2 separate regions of the Homo sapiens genome follow, and region 1 is linked to region 2. Evidence: fine-mapped expression QTL. A gene starts in region 2. The other region holds a variant in brackets. All regions are shown on one strand. Distances are from middle to middle.

The links. PIP is the estimated chance that this variant, and not a neighbour inherited with it, causes the effect.
Region 1: its variant is fine-mapped to the expression of PCNX1 in whole blood (INTERVAL, PIP above 0.99).

Annotation. Positions count from the first base shown.
Region 1 is chr14:70,875,202-70,891,946 of GRCh38, reverse strand. No RefSeq gene overlaps it. Among named protein-coding and RNA genes, the nearest start is that of PCNX1, 24 kb to the left of the region's middle. RefSeq lists an enhancer at 4,334-4,643. The variant C/T (reference allele first, on the strand shown) is at 8,970.
Region 2 is chr14:70,899,960-70,916,704 of GRCh38, reverse strand. It overlaps PCNX1 (pecanex 1), which reads right to left and starts at 9,246. Exons shown (of 36, transcript NM_014982.3): 1 at 8,702-9,246. The coding sequence starts at 8,854. RefSeq lists silencers at 8,094-8,433, 8,594-8,933, 9,154-9,343.

The sequences.
Region 1 (16,745 bases), 25 kb after region 2:
AAGCAAGTCTATTTCCTCATCTGTGGAATGCATAAAATGACCCCTTTATCTCAGGCTTACTGAGAGAATTAAATCAGGTTTGAAACAGTATGCTGTAAATTGCCAGGCAAGTGTCAATCATTGTCATTGTCTCCCACAGCTGCCAGTTCCTTGCATGGGCCACCATGTCTGTAGCATAGCCCCATAGAGTGTCTAGATTTTTCCTGCTACAAGCCCACAGAAGAGCCTCCTCAGTGATGCAATACATACGTTAATTTCTTAAGGTTAAAAAATAATTTCTCTAAATTGAGGTGAGTTGATATACTTTTCCAACCCAAATATCAGGTCTACTTCAGCAGCTGCTAAAGGAAAGAAATTACCCCTGCTCCTATTTCTCTCTGCTCCTGCAGAGTAAAACAGCAGCTAAAAACCAAGATTCTCTGACACTATTTCCTTTCTCAGCATTATAGGCCAGTATCCTGGGATCTGACATTAACCATTAGGAATTTCTTCAGCAGCAGCAGACTGGGAAAAGCAACTGCCAGTACTAAAGGAATACATTAAAACTCTTTTAAAAAAAAAAGTCACGAAGATAGTTGGATATGCTGAGTTGACTCAGACTCTTCAATATAGAGCAGTCATCTTGATGGCAACATTCATCCTGACTACGCTAAACAGGTGACCTATTCTATCAGCGATGGTGTCCAGAGCCATTGAAACACAATGTACATCATTATGTCATATACGAGGGGAAAGTTGACTAAGGTTCCAAGATCCCAAGGGTTTTAATTAATAGGAAAATTTGATTCAATAATAGTCATTTAAAAAAATGGAAGGAAAACAAGGGGAGGGAGTGATAAGGGTGGGAAGCATAGACAGGAAGCTGTATAAAATGCCCTGAAGGCTTGAAGTTGGCACTACTATAAGTCAGGGCCAGATTAGCTAGGGGACTGAAATAGCCGCAGAGAAAGAGTCCAGGAGCTACCAACACAACCATTCTAATCATGTTCTTCTCTTATCAAGCAAACTCCACTTCCTTTCTTTATCATCTACTTTATAAGTGCTCACTAGTGGCTCCACTACCAGCTTCCCCTGCAGAACTGAGAGGCTCAACTATTCCTGTTGGGGTAAAAATGATGAGAAAAATATCTCAGGATATTTCTGACTCTCTTCTCTCCACCCCCATGAACATCTCCCACCCCCAGGGCCCCAATTCTGCTTTTCTTCACTTAAAAAACTTCAAGCCAGGCCAGGTGCAGCGGCTAATGCCTGTAATCCCAACATTTTGAGAGGTTCAGGTGGGCAGATCCCTTGGGCTCAGGAGTTCGAGACCAGCCTGGGCAACATGGCAAAACCCTGTCTCTACAAAAAATATAAAAAATGAACTGGGCATGGTGGTGTGCATCTGCAATCCCAGCTGGGGCTACCCAGGAGGCTGAGGCGGGAGGATCAACTGATCTTGAGAGGTCAAGGCTGCAGTGAACCGTGATTACACCACTGCATTACAGCTTGGGCGATGGAGTGAAACCCTGTCTCAGAAAAAATTTAAACCCTCAAATCATCCCTCTTCGGTGAAGCCTTCCTTGACCTCTCCAGCACTTACTAATTTTTATTTTTCTTAATACCTATGACTTGTACATAACACAGTAAATGGACACAGTAGACATATTTCTGTCTCATGTGTGCTGACCTTTTCTTCTCAAATAGATTATAAACACTTTGAGGACGGGACTCATTTTAAACTTCTTGAAATCATCTGCCAAATTCTGTGATTTGGTGATTAGCCCGGCTAGGATCAACTTAGGCCCTAGAGTATCTCTATAGTTGGGGAGAATGTAAAAAGCTTTAGAGGTACTAAAAACGCAAAAATGAAAAGCAGAGTATGAGTTTCTCAGCATGATAGCATCAAATCAGCCTTGCTACTGGACCTACACAAACCTTTTCTTTGATTCTAGTAGCCAGTCTTATTCCTGAAGATCAAGTCCCTAACAGCCTGTCCGTAGGTCCCTTTTCAGTGACTCTTGTTGATATCTCATTTGTTCTAGATTGTGCGCTTTCTCTTGCTAATCCTTTAAAAAAAAAAAAGAAACCCAAATCCTGCCTCTGAACCTCACCCTCGAAGGTGCAGTCCCTGCTACCCACTATCCTGAGCAGCCCCTTTGGATTTCATGACTGCCCAGACCTCTGTAGTGCGTGGGCTGTGCTCCACCCACCTGTAGTTAATCTCACACCCTACCTGGCACTGGCTGGCCAGTCTGCTTCTTTGGTCTGCCTCTTTCTGCCAAGATCTTCTGGAAACGCCTGCCTTGCTCCTGGGCTCCTGGCTGGTCCCCGCATCCTTTCCATTTTGCCATCAACTAAGCCATCATTCTCAGATTTAAGAAAAAGAATTCCCCTCAATATTAAAGACACAGCAGACACATACACGTGCAAATACCCATAGTCATAAGTTCCTTTATCATTGAGAAAATTTTTACTACCTTCCTAAATTTATATTCTCCCTTTTCAGGCATTTAGCATCATCTCTAGGTCTTCCAATGTTATGCTTGGAATTTTCTTTAAATAAAAGTGGCCCTTAGAGGTCATTTACTCCAACCTTCTTATTTTACTCCTGGTCTCTACTACCCTACCTTTACGCATCTATTTAGAAGCTAGTGGCACAGGATTTTTGCTAATGATGCCTTTATTGAGGGATTTTCTTTGTCTGTTAGTAAATTACCATGATGCTAGAAGATTTTACAGAAAGTCTCAACTTAGTAATCAGCTACCATCAAAATACATTTATCTATTATTAAGGTAAGACAATTTCCTTCTCAGCCCCAGAAGGGAGGCACATGCACACAAGTATGCACACACACACACACTCACAATGTGATCAGCCAGCTCTCTGTCTGGAAAAATCAAAATACCTCCCAGCTGGAATGACAGCATCATTTTATTAACGCTGAAATAGGAGGGTGATAAAGCAAGTCTCAGCAGGCATAGCAGAAATGCACTGCTTTTATGATTCATATTTCAAAAATGATGCCATGGGAGCAAAAATGCAAAGCAGAGCTTATTATATGCTAGCAAAAATGGAGTGAAGGGTAGTCACCTCAGCTGTGCCTTTTAAGCTCTAAAGGAAGCAACACCACTACCAATTTTCTCTCCTCACCCTGAGGTTGCAACAGACACTTGGATTTGTCTACAGCCATTACTTCATTGTTCTCTGTGCTGTGAGTGGGCTAAGAAAATGATGTTGTTTCCTGTGTGATGATCTTGCTAGAGCTTTGGAGGTACTAAGGAGAATTGCAAAGAAACAGAATCATTAGTACAGTCATCCTTCATCCCTAGTTGTGGGGGGTGGGGAGAAATTGCTTCCAGGACTCCAGGATACCAAAATCTGGGGGATGCTTAAGTCCCTAATATAAAATGATGTAGTACTTGTATGTAACCTATGCACATCCTCCCATAGTTTAAATCATCTTTAGATTACTTATAATATCTAATACAATGTAAATGCTATGTAAATATGTGTTACACTGTATTATTTTTATTTTTATTGTGTATTATTATTATTTTTTTAGTGTTTTTCACCCTCAGTTGGTTGAGTCTGTATATACAGAACCTGTGGATATGGAGGGCCAGCTATATTGTCCTCCGTAGCGCCACCTCTTGATGAGGGGCTGTTGTTGGCCCCTGCAATAGACTGAATGTCTGTCCTCCCCAGATTTATATGTTGAAACCTAATTCTCCTCATGATGGTATTTGGAGGTGAGACTTTTGGGAGGCGATGAGATGTAGCCCTCATGTATGGGATTAGCACCCTTTTAAAAGAGATCCCAGAGAGGTCCTTTGTCCCTTCTGCCATGTGAAGACAGCCATCTATGAACCAGGTAACAGGCTCTCACCAGACACAAAATCTGCTGGCACCTTGATTTTGGACTTCCAAGCCACCAGAACTGTGAGAAATACATTTCTGTGGTTTATGAGCCATTCAGTGTATAGTATTTTGTTATAGCAGCCCAGATGAACAACACAACTATGCTTTCCAAACCCAGAATCCACAGGGTATGTGTGCTGCTTCTCTCTCTGCTTTGCTTGGGGAGAAAGGAATATAAAGGACCCCTGGGAATCCCTTCCCCTGGAGGTTTCCAGCTGCCTGCTTTTGACTTTGACTTCTCTTCTCTCACATGCAAGTAAAGAAAACAATACTGGGTTAACATTTTCTAAGCTGTACAACCTTAGGACAGTGCCATTGGAAGGAAAATAGGCTAGAAATCAGAAAAGATGGGCTTGATTCCAAAGATTTCAGTCAGATCTTTGACGTCAAGATATCACAAACCCTCCTTCTTCAAAGTGCAGGCACTGTCTGTTGGCTCACATCATCCGTGAGCACTTAGAGTTCCTTGAGTAAGAAGTACTGCCTTCTATAAACATCTCTGCATCTGGAGACTTATTCCTGGACATTGCTAATGAGTCAGTGAAAAACCCCAAATGATCTATGTATCAATTCCTGTTTTACACTTTCAGTTTATACAATAAATGAGAAAAAGGGCTAAGCTCAATTTGCTGGAAGTTGACAGTCCATTTTTATTTTGAAATCATTGTTGGTAATTTCATACCAAAGGAGAGGCTTACAGCAAGAGAGTAGAAATGAAAGCAGAAATGAGAAAGCTTATATAGTCTCAATTTCGATGACTCTAAAAACATTGATCAATCAACAATGCAGCTCATCCAGGAAAACCAAAACACTTTGTGGTAGGCAGAATTCTAAGCCCCTAAGGTTTCCTGCCTCTGGGATCTGTGAGCCTTCTCCCACTTACTCAATCAAACAGCAACCTAGATTCTGCTGTGAAGGGATTTTGCAGATGTAATTAAGGTCCCAAGATAGGGAGATTGTCTGGGTGGGCTTGATCTAATAGCACGAGCCCTTTAACTCTGAGTCTGGAGGTCAAAGACAGAAAAAAATCAAAGAGGTTTGAAGCATGAGAAGAATTCAACAAAGGGGAGATTCTCTATTGCTGACTATGAAGATAAAAGGACCAAGTGGTAAGAAATGCGGCAGTTTCTAGGAACTGAGAGTGGCCCCCAGCTGACAGCCAGCCAGGAAACAGGGACCTCAGTCCCCCAACCGCAAGAAACTGAATCTGTGACAACCAGAATGAGCTTCCACAAGGCCCTTGAGCTCCAGATAAGAACACTGCCCAGCTGACATCTTGATTTAGCCCTGTGAGGAGATCAGTGGAGTCACACCCTTCCCAGTTCTGGGGGAAAACCTGTAAAGTAATGAATGGGGAGTTGTTTTAAGGGGATAAATTTATGATGATTTAGTATGCAGCATAGAACTAAAATCCACACTTCCTGAATGGTTTTAAAGCCTCTTAGCCTAACCCTAAGACCAAAACCCAACCTCCTTCAAAGAGAAACCTGCCAACCACTGTGAACCAAATCTATCAGACAAGTCTCTTGTGATTCAAATTATAACCCACGGCCCGACAGCATACATGTGGCCTAAGAAATGCAGCATCTCAGGTCCCATCTGGATCTACTGAATCAAAACCTTCATTTTAACAAATCGCCTGGTGACTTATATACACATTAAAGTGTGAGAAGCACCAGTTAGCATTTTAATGCAGAGCTGGAGATCTGGAATCAGCAAAACCCATGTTCCCAAGCTGGCTCTACAGTTTTACTAGCTATGCGGACTTAGACAAGTTACTTAACCTCTCTGAACTTCTATTAATCGGTAAAATGGAGCAGGTAATAGTACTGACTTTATAGAGTTGTGGTGAGGATTAAATGGGACAGTATGTAAAGTGCTTTAGCCCTGCATTTTGGCCTGTCGTTAGCCTGGCAAACAGTAAGGGCTTAATAAATTGTTGCTTATTATTGGATTGGGCAGTAATAGCATCAATTGAATGTAGAGGGAGCAGGTAAACTGTATCAGTTGGAAACTTGCAGGATCACTGTGGCTGGCATCCTCTGATTAAATATGTTGTCACGCAGCTCCTCAGAGACTGCAAAAGGTTGTGACCTTGGTTTTCTACCTAACACAAGGCTGGGTCAGCCATGCCATTCCATCCCAATGCCTGTAACCATCTGTGTATCCCCCGACCCTCTCCCTTGTCGGTATTTAACCTCACTGGGCTTGACCTCACTTAGCTAATGAGATCTGGCCAGAAACCATGGAGATGGTTGTCAGCAACTCGGGGCAGGTGGTATCCCTGAATACCAATGGCAGCTCAATCCACAGAAAAGATGAAGAGATGTGCCAGGGGCAAAACACAGCCTGTTGAACTGTTTTAACAGAAATCTAAGGTTCTTCTTATTTTTGTTGGAGGGAATGATGGCAATGGTGACAATGGTGTTGGCATTACTGAGTATAAGAATGAATGTATAAATCAACAGTGACAAATGAGTAATACATAAGCCAGAGAGCTTTTGTGATCAATTCTGCAGAGGCCCGTTCCCCCTCCTGGTGGTTTCTCTGTTCTTGGCAAAGACTCCTCTCACTTGCTTTATTTCTCAGCCTGAGCCACAGCAATCTCTATAGTTCAATATAAATAATGAGGGTGATATTGATAATAACAATAGCTCTCATTTATTGAGTGCTCCAAGTGCCAGGCACTCTTCATATATTATTTATACTCCTTATAACAACTCTTTGAGGTAGACATTATTATGTTCCTTTTTAGCCAAGGAAACAGAAGCCTCAGAGAGGTTAAGTGGCTTGCCCAAGTTTACACAGCAGATAAGATAGTCTTGGATTCAAACCTGAGTCTGTTTGACTCTGAAACCTGTGCTTTCTTCGCTTTATCTCCGCAATACAGCTGTCATCCTTGACTGGGCTCTTGGCCCTTTGCCTGGACACTGTATCTGGGCCTTCGATACTACTGCCCAGTCAGCTCCTGAGCTGCCTTGCTCCTGTCCTTCCAGGTTTGCACCGCTTTGGCTTCTGTCTTTGCTCAGATGCTCACCTGTCTGGCCCCTGGAAACATATGGCGCTCACCTATTTCTTGTCGGTCCACATGGTTCTGCCCGTGGGTTTTCTAATCTCACTGCTCATAAGCAAGCTTGCTGGGCCTGACTCATGAAGGAGTGGCTTGATGCTCCCAGACTCTGGGTAACTGTCCCTCATTCTAGACCCTCCTGCCTCATAAGTAGAGTCTCCCCTATCATCCAGCCTGGCTCACCATTGCAGAAGAATGTTTCCTGCCTGTGTCAGAGAAACCAGCCACCTGGGTTCTTCTATCTGCTCCTGCTGTGCTCTGTCTTGAATACTCTTCCTTTCTTTCAAAACCACATTCTATTGCTCAGCTCATACCTGACTCAAAACCCAACCTACTGCCCACAGACTAAGATCTCGACCTGGAATTATATCCTATTACTATCTGGCCTCACTGACCCTTTCAAGTTCCAACCTTATTTTCCAGCCAATTGTTTCCCATCCTTTCTCTGTGATTTTCTGCTCGGCCTTTTCTCCTGCTCTTCTCTGCCAGGAATGCTCATTTCCTCTGTGCTAGTTCAGGATCATCCAAGATCTAGCATAAAATCCATCTTCTTTACAAAAAATGGCCCTAACCTTCCCAGCTGGAAATGGTCTCTTCCTTTCATTGATCTACTGTGGCACTGTATCTAGTGACACCTAACAGTTTTCTACATTTTGCCGTAGTTAATTGTATACATATTTTTTCTCCCCTTTTACACTATAAGGTCTCTGAGAACAGAGAGCATCTGATTTTTTTTTTCTTTTTTCTTTTTTGAGACAGAGTGTCACTCTGTCGCCAGGCTGGAGTGCAGTGGCACAATCTCGGCTCACTGCCTCCTGGGTTCAAGCAATTCTCCTGCCCCAGCCTCCCGAATAGCTGGGACTACAGGTGCACGGCACCAAGCCCAGCTAATTTTTGTATTTTTAGTAGAGACGGGGTTTCACCATATTGGTCAGGCTTGTCTCGAGCTCCTGACCTCAGGTGATCCACCCACCTCGGCCTCCCAAAGTGGTGGGATTATAAGCGTGAGCCACCGCGCCCGGCCTATTTTTTCCTTTTTGATGGCCTTACAGTGCCTAGCAAAATGCCTTGCTCAGAGTAAGTGCTTGATATAAATTTATTAATCCATCAGCTGGATGGATGGATGGATGGATGGATGGATGGATGGATAGATGGATGGATGAATGGATGGATGGGAAGGAGGTTATAGGAATTGAGACTCTGGCTGAGCTTTTTTAGCCAGGTAGCCATGGCAGGAGAAAGGCTTCACCTTTCATGAGAGCGTATGGTCATAATCACAGAAGGGAAAGAATAGCTTGAACCATAGCTTGAACCAGTTAACCATGCTGCCAATAAAATCAGGCCACATGTGTTTACCATGTTTTATGTTTACCAGGCTGCATCAGTAGGATACTTTAAAATATGGGACAGAAATCCTGACTCAACCTCAAACTAGCTTTTATCATAAAGAAATGTATTGGCTCCAATGCAGGATGTCAAAGGCTGGGTAGGATTCAGGACTGGTGGATCCAGTGGCTCTTTGCATCTCTCTGCTGTGCTATCCCCAATGCTGACTTCATTCTGGGGAAAGATCCCTGGGTTTTGGAAGGCTTCCAGTAGTTGCTGGGTTAATTGCTTCCCTTTTCACCTCCTACTAACTTCCTGTGACTCTTTCTTAAGGGTAAGAAAGCATATTTTCCGGAAGTGTTTAGAAAACTCTTTATGACTCATTGGTCCCAATTGGCCTTGGCCTGCCTACCCCAGACCCATTCACTAGCAACGGGGATGGGGGTGGGGTTCACATCACTCAGGACCCACCCTAGAGCTGCAGTAGAACCTGTGATGGAGAGTCACTCCAACACCCCTTACACAGCAGACAGTTTTATGGGGGCCACTCCAATGAAAGGTTGGCTCTTAGGACCTTCTCATTTTAGACACGCAGTAAACAATGAAAAACATGTCATCCAAGAGATCTCATTGTCACGGATCTTACAATATATCTCTTGCCTAAGAGTCTTC[C/T]GGTGTTTCTTGTGCAAATCCAGCGGTTAGTCAACAGGGTTTATGGAACACATGCTGTTTAGATAGTGTTACTCTAAGCACTGTACAAAGTTAGAAAAACAAGACAATGCAGCTACTTAAAAAAAATTTTTTTTAGAGACAAGGTCTTGCTCTGTTGCCCAGGTTAGCTTCAAACTCCTGGGCTCAAGCAATCCTCCTACATCAGCCTCCTTAGTCACTGGGATTATAGGCGTGTGCTGCACTGCCTGGCTTATTTTTTTTTTAACAGTAGAATGAGCATTGAGGAAAGTAGTTCTCTTCTGTTAATTCTGCTCCGTTATTTTCCAGAGTGTAGAAACTGCTTGATTTCCTTCCTCCTTTCTTTGTCCCCTCTTATTCAGCTCTCTCTTTCCTGTCACTAATTTTCTCCTTTCTTATTCTTTCCTCATTTCAGGAAAGCAACATAGCGGAGATTAGGAGTGTAGAATCTGGAGTTAGATTTCTTGGGTGGGAATTCTCACTTTGAGTTCTAGCTGTGACTTTCCAGCCGTTACTTCATTTCTCTAAGCTTCTTTTCACTGGTAAATCATGTCTAAACATTATGCCTACCTCCTTGGGTTATTCTCGAATTTTAAAAATGATGCACATTAAAAATGATTACTAATGGTTAATGATTTTAATTTTCTTCTTCATCTTTTTTTAATTATGCCACATTTTGTGTCCTGTTCCTCCCTCCTACATCCCACAGTGATAGGCTGATAGAAAATAGTCAGAAATAGAGTGCACAGAATCAACTTCCTAGTGAGAAATGGAATGGAACCATTTCAGTTCCTTCTCTTTTCTTCATTATACTTCGAGTATTTAAAGAGTGCTATGTGAATACATTTAAGGCAATGGAAATGTACAAAACCAGTTGAGAGGAACACATATGTGGTACATATGGAAGCGGAAGTATGAATGCTCTGTTCTGCATAAGAATCCCCCAGCTCTCAGTTGCTTCATCGAGGCCTGGTTTGTTCAATTGGTTAGAGCACCTTCTGATGTAACCAAGATCACGGTTTCAATTCCAGAATGTGGTGAGCCTACTTTATCTATTTGATGGCTACAGCCTCCTCTGCTGAACCTGGCAACCATCTGTAAATGCATCCATTGTTTAGAAAATGATCAATCAGAGGAGCCCGGTTGAAGCAATGCAAATCAATCACCTTACTAGGAAACAACACGACAACAGAAAGTACATGCTATCATGGTGGTGGGTTAACTGTATGATGTTTGTACATGAAGAAGGCATAGACCATGACATCATTATAGAGTTCATGGAAAACAAATAGGTTTGAAGCTATAGGTTCCACAGCAATTCACAGCCTATAAAAAAGATTACTGCTACGTCCCTTGTTTTTAAGGCCCCCAGCTCTTCTTAGAGACCATTTAGAGAATAACTGCCTGTTCCTCTAGACTAGACTCAATTGCTAGAAGTATCTCATATGGGAAGACTTTCCTGACATCTTGTTCTCCTCTTCTCAACTTAATTTCTCTCCAACCTCCACCCCTTCTAGAATTATGTGCTCTCTTTACTATGCTCCTTTTATGTCACATAATGATGGTTACTATCTAAGTCAGCTTAGGCTGCCATAGCATAACATGTTATGGCACTGGGTGACATAATACCCAGTCTATGTTATGGATTGGGTGGCTTAAACAACAAAAATTTATTTTCTGACATGTCTGGAGGCTGGAAGTATGAGTATCAAGGTCCCAGCACGGTCAGGTTCCTGTAAGGACTCTCTCCTTGGCTTGTAGATGGCTGCCTTCCCTCTGTGTCCTCACATGGTGGAGAGAGAGAGAGAGAGAGAGAGAGAGAGAGAGAGGGAGAGAGAGAGAGAGAGAGAGAGAGAGAGACTGCAAGCTGTCTGCTATCTCCTCTCATAAGGGTACTAATCCCATTATGAGGACTAATATGGTTTGGATGTTTGTGCCATCCCAATCTCTTGTTGAAATGTGATTCTCAGTGTTGGATGTGGGGCCTGGTGGGAGGTGATTGGATCATGGGGGTGGATCCCTCATGAATGGCTTAGCACCATCCCCTTGATGATAAGTAAGCTCTTGCTCTGAGTTCATGTGATATCTGGTCATTTAAAAGTGGATGGAGGCTAGGTGCGGTGGCTCACACCTATAATCCCAGCACTTTGGGAGGCCGAGGCAGGCAGATCACAAGGTCAGGAGTTCAAGACCAGCCTGGCCAATATGATGAAACCCCGTCTCTACTAAAAATACAAAAATTAGCCAGGGATGGTGGCGGGTGCCTGTAGTCCCAGCTACTCAGGAGGCTGAGACAGGAGAATCACTTGAACCGGGGAGGCAGAGCTTGCAGTGAGCTGAGATCGCGCCACTGTACTCCAGCCTGGGTGACAGAGCGAGACTCCATCTCAAAATGATAATAATAACAATAATAATAAGTGAAAGTGTATGGCACTGTCCTCCTCTCTCTTGCTCCCACTCCCACCATGTGATGTGCCGGCTCCTCTTCCTTTCTGCCATGATTTTAACTTCCTGAGGCCCTCACCAGAAGCAAATGCCAGCTCCATGCTTCCTATACAGCCTGCGGAATGGTAAGCCAAATAAGCCAAATACCCCTCTTTTCTTTATAAATTATCCACAACTTCATGTATTTCTTTATGGCCACACAAGAATGGCCTCGTACAAGAACCTATCTGGTAACCTCATCTAAACCTAATTCCTTCCCAGAGGCCCCATCTCCAAATACTATCGCATTGTGGGCTTGGGTTTCAATGTATGAATTTGGGGGGACACAATTCAGTACATAACAGTTACAATTCTTTTTGCAGCAATGCATGTTACTTTGATATGAGTGATATCCATGTAACACGGAAGACACACTGATGCATACATGATTTTCCTAGCAACTTAATATCAGGGTAAGCTTTTCTACATTTGCAGAAAAAGCCTTAGCCATATATGAATACCTTCAGAACAGACTGAAATTGATAGTGCAAGTTCTGCTTGGTTTAATGGCTTTGAGTATTGCTGCCCTTTCCACCAGTTAAACTATTCGGGGAAACTAAGAGTATAATGATGGAGTTGTGAAAACATTTCCCTCTATAGATACATTGAACAAAAGAAAGAGGCTACGCCATGGATCATTCAAAAATTTTTGAAGAAAATTATCTAGATGCTGTTAAATGAAGTTTGGCCTAAAGCTGCCTCTGTATATATTTTAAGTCTGGCCTAAAGGTTTCTCCATACACAGTGAACTGTAACCTAATTTGATGCATAAACAGACTGGTAACTGAGTCTCAGCCAATCACAGCAGCCAAATTTCAGTTAACCACAGGCAGCCAACTGTTCAAACCAGGTTCAAATAAGGCAAAGGCCCCAGCTGTAGCCAATCCAGCCGTTTCTGTACCTCCCTTATGCTTTCTACAGGTCAATTTCCTTTTTCTGTCCATAAATGTTACCTAATAAATGTGGCATAAATGTGGCAGCCCTGGAGTCACTCTGAGTCTGTTTGTGTTTTGGGGACTGTTGGATTCAAGAATCTTTCTTTACTCAATTAAACTGTGTTAAATTTAATTTGCCTAAAGCTTTTCTTTTAACCAATGGCATCAGAAGCAGGATCCAAAGTAGAAAATTAGCTGGGTGTGGGAGCACGTGTCTGTAGTCCTAGCTACTAGGGAGGCTGAGGTGGGAGGATCACCTGAGCCCAGGAGTTCGAGGCTATAGTGAGCCGTGATTACACCACTGCACTCCAGCCTGGGCAACAGAATGAGACCCTGTCTCAAAACAAGAAATAAACAAACAAAAAAACCCCAAAAATGCCCACAAAGTAGAGCTTCTAATGACCCCCAGGAGGATGGAGCGACCAAGCAAGGTGCCTGCTGGGCCCACTGTGTCCACTGCTCTCTTGCAGCAACTGGGGATCCTGGACAAATTCGCTCTTAGATTCTGAAGTGCCACAAATTTGTGTTTTGAGCTATCTGAGTTTGAGCAAATTTTTTAACTGGATTCGGTTCAGAAGTCACAACAAAAACTGGACTCAGTCCAGAAGTCACAACAAAAACTGGACTCGGTCCAGGATCGAATCAGATTCGATAATTAAGTGGATTGGATCAAGTTAGAGGCCTCAGCTGTCTCGCTGGGTCAGGCGGAAACGGGTGGTAAATGGCAATTAGTGCAGGGGGTGCGAACTCCAGCTTTTGGGAATTTGCAGAGATTTTGTGTTCTATCTCCTTTGTTCCTTTTTCTTACACACTTGGGTAGGGAAAAATCATTGGCTGACTTGGCCAAGAGGATCTTAGAGCCAAAGCCAGGAATCAACATAAAAATGAGATCCTTAATTTTTGAAGAACTGAGTCCTCCACTTTCCCAGTATGCCTGCCTTTATGTATAGTATATAAGTATTAGGCACCGGAAGCAGCAAATGCTTACAAAAATGGAGAAATCTTACTAAAGATGATTTAAAATTATGGTGGAACATTCAAATGAACAACATTGTACTTTAAGAAGTGCATTTAAAAATGGGGGCTCCTGAATTAGGTTCACCAGGGATGCCTATTGATGTGCAGAAGCTTCTAAAAAAAATTTCAAAATTTGTATTGCCTCTTTTTTTAAAATTTTTTTATTTTTTTTATTTTTTTTGAGACAGAGTCTCCCTCTGTTGCCCAGGCCGGAGCGCAGTGGCGCCATCTCGGCTCACTGCAAGCTCCGCCTCCCGGGTTCACGCCATTCTCCTGCCTCAGCCTCCCGAGTAGCTGGGACTACAGGCGCCTGCCACCACGCCCGGCTAATTTTTTGTATTTTTGGTAGAGACGGGGTTTCTTCACCGTGTTAGCCAGAATGGTCTTGATCTCCTGACCTCGTGATCTGCCCGCCTCGGCCTCCCAAAGTGCTGGGATTACAGGCGTGAGCCACCGCGCCGGCCTTATTGCCTCTTTTAAAGGCTCTTTACAAAAGACAAATAAAGATTTTAAATGACTAATTGATAAGGGAAATAGAATCTGCTAACATTTTGGCTTAGTTACTATCCTGCCCCAAGGTGGAAAGAAAGCCGAATAAAGTGCTTATAAAAGGTAGGCCCTCAGGTAAAGTAGGCTTGTTTCTCTTTTTCAAAGCTATCCATGCTGAGTCCAGGCATAGAGAACGCTTTCTCTGTCCTCTTCATTAATGGGCTCCACTATATTTATTTATTTATTTTTTATTTTTATTTATTATTATTATTATACTTTAAGTTCTAGGGTACATGTGCACAATGTGCAGGTTTGTTACATATGTATACATGTGCCATGTTGGTGTGCTGCACCCATTAACTTGTCATTTACATTAGGTATATCTCCTAATGCTATCCCTCCCCCCTACCCCCACGCCACAACAGGCCCCGGTGTGTGATGTTCCCCTTCCTGTGTCCAAGTGTTCTCATTGTTCAATTCCCACCTATGAGTGAGAACATGTGGTGTTTGTTTTTTTTGTCCTTGCGATAGTTTGCTGAGAATGATGGTTTCCAGCTTCATCCATGTCCCTACAAAGGACATGAACTCATCCTTTTTTATGGCTGCATAGTATTCCATGGTGTACATGTGCCACATTTTCTTAATCCAGTCTATCATTGATGGACATTTGGATTGGTTCCAAGTCTTTGCTATTGTAAATAGTGCTGCAATAAACATACGTGTGTATGTGTCTTTATAGCAGCATGATTTATAATCCTTTGGGTATATACCCAGTAATGGGATGGCTGGGTCAAATGGTATTTCTAGTTCTAGATCCTTGAGGAATCGCCACACTGTCTTCCACAATGGTTGAACTAGTTTACAGTCCCACCAACAGTGTAAAAGTGTTCCTATTTCTCCACATCCTCTCCAGCACCTGTTGTTTCCTGACTTTTTAATGATTGCCATTCTAACTGGTGTGAGCTCCACTTTAAACTCAGTAATTTAGCTAAGAAACAGAAGCTAGGCCAGGCGCCGTGGCTCATGCCTGTAATCCCAGCACTTTGGGAGGCCGAGGTGGGCAAATCACGAGGTCAGGAGATGGAGACCATTCTGGCCAACATGGTGAAACTCTGTCTCTACTAAAATACAAAAAAATTTGCCCGGCATGGTGGCATGTGCCTGTAGTCCCAGCTACTTGGGAGGCTGAGGCAGGGAAATTGCTTGAACCCAGGAGGCAGAGGTTGCACTGAGCCGAGATCGCACCACTGCACTCCAGCCTGGCAACAGAGCAAGACTCTGTCTCAAAAAAAGAGAAAAGAAACAGAAGCTAAGTTAAAAAGACTACCTATTGAACTAAATCAGTCTTTGCAATATACCTTTCTGGCATTTAGCTGGCTATTTTGAAACGCTTTTATTAAAGAAAATTACATCTGTGAAAGAAATCTCTATTTGTAAGGGTGTCTACCTCTGTGCAACACAAAGAGACAGAGGGCTAAGCCCCTGGAAACTCTTTAAATTGAAAAGGCATTGATTTAAATTTATATAACAAGCCTTATCATTTAAGATGCTTTTCCTGGTCATCTTGTCTTAACTGGACCTTTACCTATACCCTCCTTCCTTGGTTTGGGCAAATGGTGGTATTTAGGCCTGAAGTAGGAAATGGTTTGGGGGAAAGATGAATGGGCCCTTAGAAAAATTAATCATGGTTTGTGTGACAAGGTCTGTCTTGGTGTGATGAAACCTTCTCTCCTGTGATAATAGTTAATCTTCCCTGGTTTCTGGAACTTCCTAGGGGAGAGTGTCAGAGGCATTTGAACCAGAGCAACTCCATCTGAATAGGGGCTGGGTAAAATGAGGTCTTGAATAGGGGCTGGGTAAAATGAGGCTGAAACCTACTGGGCTGCATTCCCAGACAGTTAAGGCATTCTAAGTCACAGGATGAGATAGGAGGTCGGCACAAGGTACAACTCATAAAGATCTTGCTGATAAAACAGGTTACAGTAAAGAAGCCGGCCAAAACCCACCAAAATCGAGATGGTGATGAGAGTGACGTCTGGTTGTCCTCACTGCTACACTCCCACCAGCGCCATGACGGTTTAAAAATGCCATGGCAACATCAGGAAGTTACCCTATATGGTCTAAAAAGGGGAGGCATGAATAATCCACCCCTTGTTTAGCATATAAACAAGAAATAACCATAAAACCATGCATTTCTATGGAATAGCCATTCTTTTGTTCCTTTGTTTCCCTAATAAACTTGCTTTCACCTTATTGACTTGCCCTGAATTCTTTCTTGCACGAGATCCAAGAACCCTCTTTTGGGGTCTGGATCAGGACCCCTTTCCTGTAACAACAGGATTGATGGCATTTGGATTCCTTTGGAAAATCTGTCTTTAGACAAACAAGGAGAATTTTTAAAGCCTTGCTCTGAGTACCTGTTAGCAGCAATAGTATACAAAAGCAACATATTTTGGGGTCATATCTTCCGAACTTCTGAAACCGCCTTTGCCAAAATCATACCTGAGGAAATTATGACAGTGAAAGAGATCAGACCTAACTGACTCCATCTTGCTTTCAACCTTTAAGTTGTCCTTGTTCATTCCTGGGCGTAGGCTGAACTAACCTTCAGAAGGAATTTAGTTTATAGTTTAACTCTGAAACAAAATTGATAATAGCCCTTTTCCAAAAAAAAAAAAAAAAAAACCCTTCTTGTCTGGGGACCGGTCTGCCTTTATAGGACTAACAAATTAGCTACAAGATTAGAAATTGTGGTTTAGTGACCACACAGCCTCCAGCTGCAAGATTCTTAACCTCCCAAAATTGCTCCTGGGGAAAATATAACTATTGGAAA
Region 2 (16,745 bases):
ACCCTTCACCAGCAAAAAAATGACAACTCGCCGAAGGTTCAGATAATCCTTGGCATATTTTTAAGCAATAATGTATTTTTTAATTAAGGTATATACATTGTATTTTTAGACACAATGGTACCGCACACTTAACAGACTACAGCATAATGTAAATATAACTTTTATATGCACTGGAAAACCACAAAATTTGTGACTCATTTTATTGCAATATTCGCTTTATCGCAGTGATCTGGAACCAAACTTGCAATATCTCCAAGGTACGCCTGTACTCTCTTTCCCTGGCTCTTTTTTCGTCTTCATTTTACAACTCTGTCTTCCTTTGCTGATTTCTAAATGCTGTTTAGGCCTTGGAATTCTGTCCAAGGCCATTTTCTTTTTAATGAGATAAACTTTCTTCCCAGAAGATCTACATGCTGATAACTTGCAAGTAAATTTTACCCCAGATTTCTCTCCTGAACATTCCTCTTCGACACTCTGAATTCATGTTCTCCAATCTCAAAGATACCTTCAAAATTGTTCAACAATCCTACCATCCCTTGATAGTTCACTTTTCCACTTACCAAAAGTAAGAATAGCATGTCACATTTGGGGGATCTCCCTCAAACCTTAAATATCCTCTTCACCTCCTCTTTCACTCTCAACAGAACACACTCACTTTGTCCTCTAAGGAGATTACATAAATCATAAAAGATGAACCTCAACTTTTCCCATGAACTGTTTATCCCTTCCTCCATGATTTATCCCTTCATCCTTCATCCTTTATCCCTTCATCCTTGCCTCCTTCCTTCCTGCTCTGAGGATAATCCTTTAACACATGTGCTTTCTGGACCACAATCCTATTTTGTATTCCAGGAACCCTGCATTATCTACCCATTTCTCATTCTCATATTTATATTCTCTCTCAATATAAAGATTCACTCAGTATTTGTAAAATGAGTATTTATCAAAGAAGATAATCCAACAAGTCTATTTTTAGGAATTTATACAAAATACTAGTACAAATATTTAACTACAAGAGTATTCACCCTACTGTTTTCTAAATAGCTAAAACCTGGAAATGACTTACATAACCAGTAAGAGGTAAATGATTAAACTGTAACACATATGATCTACTGCAGAGCTATTAAAAAGCCACTTACCCCCAACCCATGGAAACACTCATAATTTAAAGTGAAAATAGGAGACTTGAAAACAGTATGAATTCTATGAGCCCATTTTTGTAATCAAAGTAGTATTTAAAACTCCAAATATATTTTGGTTACTAAAATGTTCTACAGACAGGGGTGATGGAATTACCAATGGCTGTATTTTCTTTTTACTTATCTATAATTTCTGATTTAGACAAATAAATCAGAACAGCTGAACAAAAAGATTTTTAAATTAAAACATGGTCTTATTTGGAAAGAGAAAAGGGTTTTGAGATTCCGTAAAGTTTTCCAGTGTCTTTGAGTTCTGATAAAACCTATCCTCATGTTGGCATCTTTACATATAGTAGCCAAAAACTGGGAAGAGCCTAGCTGCTCATCTACACGGGAATGGATAAAGGTGAGCAAACTGTAGCACAGTCATACAAAGGAATATTACTCAGCAATAAAAAGGAAAAAAGCTACTGATACAACACCATGGATTAATCTCAACCACGTTATGCTGAGTGAAGGTGGCTTACACAAAGCATGTGCTACATGATTCCATTTATATGAAATTCTAGAACAGGATAACCTAATTTATAATGAAAAAAAGTCAGAACAAGGATGAGAGGACTGACTCAGAAGGTCAAGCAGAAACTATCTGGAGTGACGCTGATATTCTACAACATGCCAAGTCTACACTACGCAAACGTGTGCATTTATCAAAACTCATCGAATGGTTCACTGAAGATTGTGCCTTTAGAACCTACCTGACAATGCACCTGCTGAAGAGTTTAGGGGTGATTTGTATAGAAGTGTAACTTAATTTACATGCATCTCCCTAAAAAAGGGTGGACAGATAGAGGAATAAAACAGATAGAGACACAATATTTAAAAACACAGAATCCAGGTGGTGGGTACAATTTTCTCAACTTTCCTATATGTTTGAAAATTCTTTAATAAAATGTTGAAAGATTTAACTCTCAGTAAAGTCAGCTAGAGAAAGCAAATTACCTGACTGAATCTGTGTATTCAAAGGCTAGAAAAAAAATAGAAACTTTCCTAGTTTTCCAATCACCAAATGATTTTATGATTTGGAGTAATTTTCAAGTGGGAGAAAACACTCCACCTTTACGTCACAAAAGACAGAACATTTTATAAATCAACTGCTTTTTTTGTAAATTAATACACTTTTCTACAAATTGACAAATATGGCTGCTTTCTTGGAGGTCTAATTTTCTTTTCCTTTAGATTCAGCAAGGTACATGTGCAGGTTTGTCACATAGGCATATTAAGTGATGCTGAGGTTTGGCTTCTAATGATCCTGTCACCCAAGTAGTGAACACAGTAGCCAATGTATAGCTTTTCAACCCTCGCCCCCTACCCGCTTTTGGAATCCCCAGTATTTATTGTTCCCTTCTTTGTATCTGTGGGTATCCAAATGTTTAACTCCCACTTATAAGTGAGAACATGTGGTAGATGGTTTTCTGTGTAAACCATCTTTGGACAGTGTACCCTTAATTTATTATAGGTAATATAATACATAAGAGTTATATCTGTGCCATGACCAGTTATGGAAATAATTAGACTCACTTTGATCCTAAATATTGAAAATACTGGTAAAGGGCACAGGCTAATAGATCTAAACAGGCCATCCACTAGTCATTAACCTTCCCCTAAAGGATGCAGAAAATAATACTTAAAAATCATATGTACAATATGCAATAGCAATATAAATTGCTAATTTATAGCACAGTAACTTTTCTAGCTTGATCTAAACTTTTAGAGAAATATAAATTTTAAAATATGAAAATCCCTGTTTTAGTCACCCTAACTAAATCTTGTTTAAAATGATCTTTAAATACTTTTAAATTGGGGGAAAGAAAATGACCTGAGAGCTTTAGCGTAATCCTCACTAATAAAAGATATATCATTCTAAAGATGACAAAGATCAGTTACAGAAAACAATGAAGACAACTAGGAAGAAAATGTTGAAACCTTTATAAATTTTGTTAATGATTTAGAGTCTGAATATAATCTCTCCACAGATTTATGTGGTATATATTACTGTATATATCATGTATGTATGTATAACCACACAGCTGTATGCACAAAAAGCCATACGTACTGCACTTTCAATGACTTAAGTGTTTTTCAAGGGTCATTTTGTATTTGATTTTTCAGTAATTTTATATTTGATTTTTGTCTTGTAGAGACTGACACCGAACCTAACCCCTAAGTAAGCAGCTCCACCATATGATACAGCCTACCACAATCCTCCCTCCACCTCCAACTATTCTACATCAGTTAACAAGTCTAAAAAAGCTTCACATGTATAATAAAAAATTCATTCAACAAATACTTCTTCAGATCCTAATATGAGCCAGGCAGTCATGCAGACACTTGATAAACACTGATGAGTAAATCAGACCTGGCCCCTGCCCTCATGGAACTTACAAGGTATGGAAGTGGAGGATGATCGAGAGGACAAACAAGTAAACAAACAAAAAATATATGTTTGTGTTAAGTGCTATGGAAGAAAGTTATGGAATGGAATGATGAAAAAAAAGAGAGGGAACCTATTTATGGTTATCAGGCTCAGCCTCTGTGAGGGGATAATACTGAAGTCCAGCCCTAAAGATTAAGTAGCAGCCAGCCTTGCAAAGAGCAAGAAGGAAGAGTATCCTTTCAGAAGGCACAACACGTGCAAAGGTCTCACAGGAGGAAAAGGCTCAGTGGGCTAAAGTAACAGAAAGGCCAGTGTGACTACAGCACAGTGGGAAAACTGCACAAACTGTAAACAAAGGCAGAATAAGCTCTGGTGGCTTAATAAAGATTCTGGATTTTTTTCTAAGTGCCAAAGAAAATCTTTAAAGAATATTTAAAAGAATGACACAGATTTATGTCTTTTCCTCTGAGCAGAAAGTGGTAAGATTTGCTCAAAAGCAAGGGGTGGGGGATAAGCAACTAGATACAGACAGTGCCATTAACTAACATGACAGAGTGAGGAAAAACATTTTGTGGCAGTGTTGTTTAGGGGGGAATTCAGAAGCTTTTGGGCATGATACTTTTGGGATGCCTGTGAGACAGCCAAGAGGTACGTTGAGTAGCAGCTGGATGTCAGTCAGGGGCTGGTAGTTAGGAATATTGATCAAGTTATTTAAACTTACCTAGAATGTTTATAAAATACAAATCAATAGGCCACACTCCAGATCTACCGAATAAGAAAGGGCTTGCACATCATTAACATTGTCAAGTGATTCTGATGTCAACTGGAGGAGTCTGGGAACCACTTACGTAATAAATTTTAACGTTCTTTTTTTTCTTTTTTCTTTTTTTTTTTGAGACAGAGTCTCGCTCTGTCGCCCAGGCTGGAGTGCAGTGGCACAATCTTGGCTCACTGCAAGCTCTGCCTCCCAGGTTCACAACAGTCTCCTGCCTCAGCCTCCCGAGTAGCTGGGACTACAGGCGCCCGCCACCATGCCCGGCTAATTTTTTGTTTTTTTAGTAGAGACGGGGTTTCACCGTGTTAGCCAGGATGGTCTGGATCTCCTGACCTCGTGATGATCTGCCTGCCTCGGCCTCCCAAAGTGCGTGAGCCACCGCGCCCAGCCATAAATTTTAATGTTCTATTTCATCACCTAGGGATATATTGCTTTACAGAGGAAAACAATATATTGAGCAATATGTTATGAAAATGATTTGACTTAATAATCCAGAGCTATTTAGTCTCCTACAGTCATACAGCATTATAGAGGAAACACTTCCAATTAGCCATTTTTTCAAATGACATTTACTGAAGGCCATTCTGAAGGTAAATAATTTCTTCTATTTCATAAATATTTTCTTGAAAAACACCCATGAAATATCTCACAAATGAGTAAATCAAGGTTCAGAAAGGTGGAGTCTTGCCCACAGGACACACAATCAATAACAAAGCCAAGATTCAAAAATCAAGACACTAATTCCAATCTGCTTTCCACCATACAAAAATGCCACTCACCCCCAAAAATCTCATCATCTGTGACATGTACAAAAATCACTGTAACTAGATAAAAAAGAATGAGTACCTTAAAGGAAACAGACAGGACAATCAGAATTAAGAAACAAAAATTTTTTCTTCATTTTCACTACTTAAAAGATTTTTAACTAGTTGATGTATATAGAGTCCACCTTTCAAAGTATCCACAAATGCTCCTAAATAAACACCAAAAGTGTTTGAATCCTATAAAGTCCTAAGACTGTTTCCTAACTTAATGTACGATCTCTCCACAGATTTAGGCACTTTTTGGGGGGGAATAAATAAAAGGCAGCCTGTACAGTGACTTTGCCTTCAGAAAGCTCTGTGTAAATCCCAGCTCACAACTTGCCTACTAACAGCAAAACCTCATGAGGTCACGGGGTTAAAGAACCTATACATGTACTTTTAAAACAGTCATTATCACTTACAGTTATTATTGTAAGAGCATGCAAATAATAACCTATGGCTGTCTGAGATTTTAACACAAAATGTTGGATTTTGCTTTATTTTTGGTGTATACTTCAAACTATCTACCTTTTACTAGTATGTTTCCTAAAATGTTTACAAATTCTCTGTCCTGACCACCCCTGGTCTAGGGTTCATCCCCTGACTATAAGATCAGGGTCCCTCTTTACTTACCCTTTCCTAGCAGTTCTAACAGTAACAACTCATTACCCCCAGGCTAGATTTTAAGTTCCTTGAAAGCAGAAGCTGTGTCTTGTGCACTTCTCAATCATTCATCGGAGTACTACATGTGCTTTACACTAATCTAGGTCCTAAAAATACAGCAGTGAACGAAACTAAGTTCCTGCCCTCTCAGAGCTTATATTCTAATAAGATAAGAAAGACATAAAAACAAATAAATAGATATCAGTTAGGAATAAATACCATACTATTTTAAAAGGTGGGCTATGGAGTCTTGTGAGAGCTGGGGAAGTTGCTATTTCACATAGGCTATCAGAGAAAGCCTCACGTATATGAGAACCTGCAAAAAGTGGAGCAGCCACACAGGTATCTGGAAAAGAGGAGTCATCCAGACAGAGGGAAAAGCAAGCACAAAGGCGCTGAAGCAGGAACATACTTCTTGGCAAGAAGAGTAAGGCGGCAAATGTGTGTGTGGTTGAGACAAGAGAGACACAGGAGAGGGCAGGCCCTGAGAGCAGAAGAATGACATGATCTGAAAGAATCACAGAGGCGTCTGTGTGGAGAATAAAGAACAAAAGCATTGAACCTCATTAAAGTACTGCAATAATCCAGGAGAGAGAATGGTGACGAACCAAGGGAATGATGATGGCCTGATGGCCGTGATGATGATGGTGCTGGTGAGAGGAGGAGGAGGAGGAGGAGGACGAGGAGGAGGAGGAGGAGGAGGAGGAGGAGGAGGAGGAGGAGGAGGAGGAGGGGGAGGAGGGGGAGGGGGAGGAGGAGGAGGGGGAGGAGGAGGAGGGGGAGGAGGAGGGGGAGGAGGAGGAGGAGGAGGAGGAGGAGGAGGGGGAGGAGGAGGAGGAGGAGGAGGAGGAGGAGGGAGGAGTCGTCGTCTAGTTAGGTTTTGAAGATACAGCCCCTATTGCTCATAAGCAATAAGTGGCTGAGAACTCTAAAACCAGCAGTCATGCTAACCGCATGTACTGAACTTTGGAAGTTCATTTCTCAAGGCTCTCCATCTTATTATCCATTTCAGGTAAAGGTCTGAACTGATTAAGAACAGCTCAGCACCTTCTGGTTTGGGAAGAGTGGGACTGCCATTAATTGAGATAAGGAAGTCAGAAGCAATCTCAGAAAGTGTCTAGTACATGGTAGACACTCAAATATGTGAGAATTCAGTTTAACTGAACTCCCAAAATGAAGGAAGTAAACTCAATGTCCTGGTTTCCATTTGCTCTAATATTCTTTCAGTAACATTTGCTAACTACACAAAGAGACTTAACCATGACCACACAGTTTACTACAAGTGTTAAAAAAGAAATCTTACACTGGACCCAGCAACTAATCCTTACCTCTCAAAAATCATTTTCAGTTTTAAATCTACAATTCTTCTGGACATAGAAGAAATTTGCTTTGAAAATTTTGTGACAGCCTGAGGATTCTTAAACCCAAAGTAATTAACCCGTTCATTAATGATGTCATATTCCTGGAAGGTATAGTAGTGCAAATAGAACTCCCTAGGCCAAAATTAATTGAAAATTATAATACTTCACGATAAATTTTCAGAATGCAACAAGACTGAACAAGTCCCCCTAATAAAACAAGCCACAAGCCATCAGCATTTCTTAATGGCTTTTTTTTTTAACCTCAAACAATAAGTCCCTTCAAAACAATTTCAACGAAAAATGTGAATCTGCTTGAGAATGTGCACATCTTCCCTCAAGCAGACACTTTTCCTGCCAATTAGTGAAACTGAACTTCACTTAGGGAAGAATTGGGTGTCCTCACCTTTTGCACTTCTCATAGTGGTCCTCCGGGATTTTCTAACTCAGCACCCTGTCTCTAGCTCCACAAAGAACCTCAAAGTTAGCAGAAATACATTCAAAGGAATTCTCCTAAAATAAAAAGTTCAGATCCTTTCCTCCCCTCTGACTACTTTAAAATTTTATATGAAGCCTTAAGTAACATCTCTGTCCACACGAGTTTCCCTAACGCCCCACCCTAACCTGTGCTTTAGAAACTGCGCTTAACAACTTTCAATGTTGCTTTAAAAACACAGATGATTCAGAGAAGCTGATCGCACCGAATTCAGCAACAGGCAGTACTCTCTCTCCCTACTCCTATCCGCCAAAGGCCTTGAACCAAGCCAAACAAATCTGCTGAAATGCCAGCCAGATTCCCCGTTATCTCCCCGCTCCCTCCCCCCAGGGAGGCCAGGAAGCACCACGGCCACCGGCCACGGGGCCGAACAGAGAAGAACCGCTGCGAAGCACAACAACGGTTTTTTAGAGGCAGGAGGGTTCCGAGCCGGGTTTTCAGCCACCACCCAGGACCCCTGGAGGACGAGCCCGGACGACCCCCACACACACTCGGAGCAGAGCCGCACGGTCCCCCGCGCTCCCGGGGCTCCGCACGCGGATTAGCGGCGAGGCGGCGGGCGGCCTCTCCCGGGAGCCCCGGACGAGGGCCGCGGCGGGGGCGGGCAGTGCCGGATGCCGGGCGCCCGAGGAACCCAGCGTGCCAAGGATGGATGCGGCGTCCCCTAAAGCCGCAGAGCGCTCGGCGCCTGCCACACAGCCCCACGGGCGGGGGGCCCCGGCGGGGACGGCCTAGCCGAGTGGCCGCAGGAGGGAACCCCGAGAAGGGGCCTAGGACGCTGCCGCTTCCCAGTGAGCGGGCGGGGGCGGCCGGCGCGGGTTGCCGTGGGCTCGTTGCTCGTGTCACCTCCGAAACCAGGAAAGCCCCGAAGAGAGGAGTGGGAGCACGCAGTGGGGGCGGGGAGCCTCACACCGAGAGGGTGGCGGCCCCCGGGGGACGAGACCCCGTGGAAGAGGAAGAGGGCGCGACCCCAGCATCTCCCCACCGGCTCGCGGGGAAGGAGCCACCCGCTCCCCGCCCCCACACTCACCATGTAGAGGGTGAAGGGCAGGCCCAGCAGAAAGAGCCACAGGTAGAGGTGCAGCGCGTTCACGAAGGTGGCCTGGTGCGGGTCGTAGTACCAGCCCCCGCTGAGCGCGGCCCACACCCCCTGTCGGAGGATCTGCAGCGTCTGCGACCCCATCCCCACCCGGCGCCGCCGCCGTCGCCGCCGCCGCCGCCGCCGTCCCCGCCCCGGCCCCAGCTCGGCCTCGGTCGCCGGAGCCTGCAGCTGCCCCGTCTATCCACCTCCGGAGCTCCGGGTGAGCGAGCCGGCGCTTCGGCGGTCGCTGGTGCTGCTGCAGGAGGAGGAGGAGGCAGCAAACGAGGAGGAGGAGACCCGAGAGGAGGAGGCGGCGAGCGGCGGGGCGGAGGACGGCGGAGAGGAGGAGACCGGCCTTCTGAGAGCCGCCGCCATCTTGTCTCCTAACACCCGGAGCCGCGGCCCGGCCCCCGCCACCCGCGGCCCGCCAGCGCCCCCACTGCCGCCGCCGCGACCCCCGCCGGCCGCCAGCCCTGGGCCAGGCAGAGAAAGAGGCCCGGCGCCAGGGAGCGACCGAGAGGAAGCCGCGCCCCCTCCAGCTCCTCCTCTCCGCTCCCTCCGCCCCCTGGGCCGGCTACGGTGCGCGCCGCGCCTGGTCCGCCGCGGGCGCCTCCTGCCGACGTCCGGGAGAAGCGCGCGTCAACGCGGCCGGGGTTCAGGGCCCCGGGGGCTGCGGAGGTGGCTGAGACGCGGCTGGCTGGTCCGGAGGACCCCATTCTGCCCCTGGTAGGCCCCCTGGCAAGTTCGCCTACGAGTCTCTAAACGGGGTCTTTCTGACTCCGAAACTAACAGATCTTGACTCCAGAAAAGCGTCCTGCCTGTCATTTATGATATTTGTGAAAGACCTAGGAACAACTGAAGCTAACACCTGAGATACTGAAGGCCTGGAAGAGTTAGGTACGGCTGATGACACTGTTGAAAAGTCATAAACGCACCCAAGTTGAGCAAGAACTGTGTTGGCCCGTGTGTGAGAAAAAATAGCCACGTCCAGACTGGGAGAATTTACTACTTCCAAAGACAAGTTAATAGAAGCGGCACAGGACATGGAAGTATGGAGTGGACAGGTTACCATTTGTACGCGGTGATTGTATTTTTAAATGTGCTGTAACTAGCAGCCATTTTTATTAATGGGCCAATCTAAACAGGGTTGAAAAAGATTAACCGTGACGCCACCCCAAATTACAATAGGGTCTTGTAGATCTCTTTTTATAGCTGTAAAAACGGAATCATTCTTGGCTCTGTGTAATGTTTATAAGGCGTGTCTGATCTCACTGAATAAAATTTTATAGAAAAGTTTGAAATTTGAGTTTATTGAAGTTTGGCTTTTATGGCAATAAAAGTACTGTGTATTCCCAGATTACAGTTGCTATAATTAATGAGGGAAACAAGAGCCAAAGGAAACTGGTGATATTTTAAGAAGAGTAATGAAAAACCGTTACAATACCTCCCAGTGCCATACCACTTTATAGTTGCTCAGACACTATCACACCCATTCCATTCAGACCTCAGGACAACCCTTTGAGGGCAGCATAGCAGCTATTGTTATTTTATGGATGAGAAAACCTGTAAACTCAAGTAAGTGATTGGCCAAATGCTTATGGCCACTTATTGCTCATAAGCAATAAGTGGTTGAGAACTCTAAAACCAGCAGTCATGCTAACTGCATGCACTGAACTTTGGAAGTTCATTTCTCAAGGCTCTCCACCTTATTATCCATTTCAGGTAAAAGTTTGAATTGATTAAGAACAGTTCAGCACCTTCTGGTTATCTGTGACCAGCTTAAATACATGACCAGTTTTCGTCAAAGTGCAAATTCTTAGGGCATCATTCTATAGACACTCTGTGGGGTGGTACCCAGCAATCTGTTTTAACAAGTCCTCCGGAGGATTCTAATGTAGCTTACCACTGTAGAACACCACACCATCCCTAGCCTTGATTTGTTTATGTCCTTATAACCACAAAGCCACTGAGTTCCAGTAAGATACCTTGAAATTGAGAGCTGTGAGTAAACACTGGACAAAATATACTTTAAAATATATTTGTATATCTAAAAGCAAAATTATGATTAAATAATGCAATTTTACAATTAAAATAGTGGCCTTGAAGCTGGTGTCATAGATACCAGCTATTGTCAAGTTTTCATTTGTTTCCCCTAAAGGAGACAGGAAAGCTCTCTGGGAAGGTTTTGGAAGTAATCCCAACCTTTCCAACACAAAGAAAGATGTAAACAAGGATAAAATTCCAATACCACATCAGTTTCCACAACAGCAAAGATCCGCTATGGTTTAATATAAAAGGATTAACTGTAATGAGGGTGAGGTGGATGGGGAGAAATGGAAACTAGAACCAGATACATCCGTGGAATCGGAGGCCAACCCAGCTGGCGTGATAAACGTTCAGCCAGAATGCAGTATCTGGAGGATATGGAACCGGCAGCAGGCCAGGAAGGCAGCCGGCATCAGGCCTGTTAAACAGAGAATGTGGGTGTTGTAAGCCAATGGACAGCTGGAACACATAGCCTTGGAAAATCCAGGAGTGGGCAAAAATTGGGAAATCACGGCAAGCCTTGAGAAAGTGTGTTGCTTATAGCAAGGCCCCAGCTTCAGTGCTGGGGTTTTCTAGGTCTGCCCTTTCGTTTCTACAGGGAATTGATGAAAACAAATAGAACTCAGATCCTTGAGCTACTGAGATACTCACTGGAGGCCCAAGTTTGAGGACCCAGCAGGACAAAACAAATATTCAAAGGCTGGATCTGGGGGGACAGAGTGAGACTTACAAACAAAGCAGGAGCCTAATACCTAGAACTAGGACCAAACTTCACACTGAGCATGGTTGCCTTATGTTGAAGTCCCAGAGTGTTAATATAAAGCTCTAGTTGCCCTCCAAAATGACTGGGATTGATCCCAGAACCTGAGGTGTGAGTCACATGGCAATAGCCATTGGGTGAAAAGGGGTTAGCAGGATTGGCAGGCCCAGAGAGTAGAAACAGCAGTTAGAGACTACATCTTTCAGCTCTGGACTGGTAGGAGCATTTTAGAAAAATACTAATTAACTGACTTAGGGAGTAGCAATTGAGAGTATCCAGTGAAAAAGCTGACCTTTCCAAATGACTGACTCAGTCATTGGGACGGGGTGGATGGGGGGGAATGAGGGGGCGGGGAGAAAGACAATCCTACAGCGCTCTCTGTAGCTCTCAAAATGTTTGTGAATACTGCCTGCCACAACAAGCTTCCTATTTTATAAACTAGAAGCTAAGGCAGAGAGAGGTTAAATGGTTTACTCAAGGTAGCACACTCCATCATGCCCATAAAATATAACAGCAGGACAAAAATCCAGGGAACTAATTTTGCTAAGTGTTAACCCTCTTAGCCATGCATAGAAGCCATTAATAATGTTACACTTAGCATGTCAAAGTTAGCAGCCATGACATACTACCAAATCACCATTTGACATTTGCTCATCTCTCAGCTAATCCTATTAAAATTATATTTTCTGACTAGCTCATAGGCCTCCTGGGGACTGAGAGTACTCGACAGCAGATGCTGTCTCCTGCCTGAAAAGGACAAAGCTGAATGTACGAAATCTAATAACCCCACCCAAGCCCACCTTGGAGCAGAGTCATGCAAACTGCAGCTCTGATCCATTTTTGTGTGGCAATTATCTGTTTTAGACATTATGGCCCACATGTCCTGCCAATGATCCAGACGCAGTAAGTATCCATGTCTTCCCCCAGTCCTGCGCCTCTTCTTTGTCTTCGTGAAACCAACATTTTCCAGCTCACTCAGACTTGGAACCTCATATATCCTTCCCCAGTGTCTAGTCTCCACAGGCTTTCTCCTGCTCAACCCTTCCCTTACGTTGCCAGATCAACCGTTCTGGAGAATCCCCTCATCAAGTCGTACCCAGCAGTCTGCTATTACCACCAATTTCTCCTCTTCTAAACCATTCTACCTTCCACTAACAAATTAATCTCCCTAATCCACTTTTCTTAAAAGCCTTTAATTCCCTTCAGGACTAAAGGGATACTCCTTAGCCGGGCAAAGACCCCAGCAACCTGAATCACTATTTTCTCCAACTTAACTGCCGCTACTCCCCAGCATGAACCCTTTTTATTGGTGAATATCAGTATAACTATTTATGTTTATCAGCCCACTCATTTATTAATTTCTGCCTCTGTGCTTTTACTGACACCATTTGCCTTACTTAGAAAACATTACCCCTCCACCTGCCTGCTAAAATCCACTACGTCTACTCCAAACCCATTCTTCTATTTTTTGAACAGCCTAGAGCACTCACATGTTCCACTCATTTAGCGTTTAATTATGTGCTACTTCAAATCCCTCCATCTAAACTGTACATTCCTTGAGGGCAAGGCACTTCTCAGCATGTTCCACAGGGCCTAGCAGAGAAAGCTGTTAGCATCAATTAACACTCAGTTCATATACATTGATTAAACAAAGCACAGAAACCAATGGCTTTCCAATTAGAGATTTTAATCTGTTTTTTCTTTTTTTCTTTTCTTTTTTTTTTTTTTGAGATGGAGTCTTGCTCTTGTTGCCCAGGCTGGAGTGCAATGGCGCAATCTCGACTCACTGCAACCTCCACTTCCCGGGTTCAAGCGATTCTCCTGCCTCAGCCTCCTGAATAGCTGGGATTACAGGCACGCGCCACCACGCCCAGCTAATTTTTGTATTTTTAGTAGAGACAGGGTTTCACCATGTTGACTAGGCTGGTCTTGAACTTCTGACCTCAGGTGATCCACCCGCCTCGGCCTCCCAAAGTGCTAGGATTATAGGCGTGAGCTACCGTGCCCGGCCTAATCTGTTTCATCATTCATTTGGTAATTCTTCAACATTTCAAAGCATTTCACCAGCTTAGAATAGCAGTTCAAGGAAGGAAAAAATAATATGAAATGAAGGTGAAGAGAATTTGGAAGAGAAGGCTGGGCGTGGTGACTCACACCTATAATCCCAACACTTTGGAAAGCCTAGCTGAGAAGATCACTTGAGCCCAGGAGTACGAGACCAGCCTGGGCAACATGGCGAAACCCCATCTCTACAAAAAATACAAAAATTAGCTGGGCATGGTGGCGCAAGCTTGTGGTCTCAGCTACGCAGGATGCTAAAGCAGGAGGATCACCTGAGCCTGGGAGGTCAAGGATGCAGTGAGCTGTGATTGCACACTCCAGCTTCAGTGACAGACTTAGACCCTGTCACAAAAAAAAAAAAAAAAAAAAAGGAAAGAAAAGAAAAAAAAGAAGTGCCCCAGAATTCTTCTGTGGATCTCTTTTAGCCATTTGCTGTGTACTGCTTTAGATCACATCAGGAAAATAAATATCAAATGGAAACTTCCCAAATCTCACATAATATAATTATAAAATACCATCATCTGGATATGAAGCTAAACAAGTGAAAATAAAAGACTTTCTTACTAACTAGGAGATGATTCTTCTTGGAAATCTCAACCCAATCTCCTTTTTTTAAATGTCAACTCCATATGAGTAATTTAAAATATGTTTTTAGTGACACCAACTACTTTAGTAATTCTTGTTATGGTTTTGTGTCATCCTGAGAGTGTCTTCTGTCATGTCTCAAAAAACCAATTCACTTTTCTTAAACTTACCACACTTTGGGAGCAGGGCAATGAAAGGAAAGGGAAAGCATGCAAGATACTGCGAAACTCCCCAGATATTGTGAATCCCTAAATTAAAAATAATATACACATGAATTGTTTTTCATCTTTTGACATTAAAAGATTCTTCTATGTCAGTCTGATGTCTAATGTGCTTCACTATATCATATGAAAGAGCTTGTTTATCTTTTTTTTTTTTTTTTTGAGACAGGTTCTCACTCCGTCACCTAGGCTGGAGTGCAGTGGCGCGATCTCAACTCTGCAACCTCCGCCTCCTGGGTTCAAATGATTCTCACGTCTCAGACTCCTGAGTAGCTGGGACTACAGGAGAGCACCACTACGCCCAGCTAATTTTTGTATTTTTTGGTGGAGACGGGGTTTCACCATGTTGGCCAGGGTGGCCTCAAACTCCTGACCTCAAGTGATCTGCCTGCCTCAGCCTCTCAAGGTGGTGGGATTATAGGCGTGAGCCAGTGCTCCCAGCCTTGTTTATCTTTCTATTTCAGCTGGGGTAGCATAATTCCAACAGGACCTACTAGGCCAACTGATGTGGCTGGATGATTCTCTGAAGAGTTCACCCCCTGTATTAGTAGCTACCAGTGTCATCCAGAGCGCCTCCCTGTAGCTAAGTAGAAGTGAGAGTTGTCACCTTTGGAGGCCAGATGTCTGGCTCCTCTGGCAAGGAACACCAGGAACATTCCTTGGTGAGAAGGTGGTGTTCATAATGGAAAGGGCCTGGGGGCTGGAATCAGATGAATCTGTGTTTTAATCCACCTTCTGCTACTTTCTAAATTAGTCCTAGCCCCTAGTCAAGGAATCCGAGCAGAATTGAAGAGTCCTGGGGAATTCAAGGTTGCAGACTCATTGCATTTCATTTTGATGGCTGGAGCTTTTTTCTAATGACAAAAATAACATTCCAATGACATCATAAAAAGATCTTTCCCTTGGAGATTTTTCACTGCTTTCTTTATGGAAACCTTGACAGCACATGGGAACATATTTCTTATTAGTTTTTTTTTTTGTCTGTTTGGGGTTTTTGATTTTTAGCTGGGTTTTTGTTTTGTTTTGCCTCACCTACTGTCACCAGGATTCAGTGGCTGTTAATATACATAAGTATTTTCTAATTATGTACAAATAATATGTTTTGTATATACATCATAGGAGGGTGATACATATCAGTATAAAATCTCTCAAATCAGTAAAGATCAGGACACAAAGTAAAACCTCCCTGTTCCTCCAGTTTTCTTGCTCCGTTTCTCTCAACATTTCCTTCCTGTAAACTCATTATATTTTTAGGTCCTATGACAAGTGTTTCTCAATGTGTATATAGTCCATGAATGACCCCAAGTCAAAATCTTCTATTAAACACAGAATCCCAGCCAGGTGCGGTGGCTCACGCCTGTAATCCCAGCACTTTGGGAGGCCAAGACGGGCGGATCACGAGGTCAGGAGATTGAGACTATCCTGGCTAACACGGTGAAACCCCATCTCTATTAAAAATACAAAAAATTAGCTGGGCATAGTGGCACATGCCTGTAGTCCCAGCTACTCGGGAGACTGAGGCAGGAGAATGGCATGAACCCAGGAGGCGGAGCTTGCAGTGAGCCGAGATCGTGCCACTGCACTCCAGCCTGGGTGACAGAGCAAGACTCCATCTCAAAAAAAAAAAAAAAAAAAAACATAATCCTAGAGCCAGGTGCCATGGTGCACGCTGATATTCCAGCTACTTGGGAGGTTGAGACGGCATGATCACTTGAGCCCAGGAAGGTGAGACCAGCCGAGGCAACATAATGAGACAATATCTCCAAAAACAAAGAAACAAACATATAATCTAAGTTATGGTGCTTTATACATAGGGTACTGAAAAACTCCCTCAGTGTTGGGTATCTCTGAAATAAAGAATTAGTATAAACATCTATTGTTTTCTATCTTTTGATATTAAAAGATAGAATTCCAAGCAGCCAATAGAATACTGAAGTATCTTTTAATGAACTAATAAGGATTGATCTTTAAAATATATGGTGAAGTGGCTGGGTGCCGTGGCTCACGCCTGTAATCCTAGCACTCTGGGAGGCTGAGGCAGGCAGATCGCTTGAGCTCAGGAGTTCAAGACCAGCCTGGACAACATGGTGAAACCACATCCCTACCAAAAAAAAAAAAATACAAAAAATTAGCTGGGTGTCATGGTGCATGCCTGCAGTCCCAGCTACCTGGGTGGCTGAGGTGCAAGGATCATGTGAGCCCAAGAGGTCCAGACTGCAGTGAGCTGAGATCATGCCACTGCACCCAAGCCTGGGTGACAAAGTGAGATCCTGTCTCAAAAAAAAAAAAAAAAAAAAAAAAATATATATATATATATATA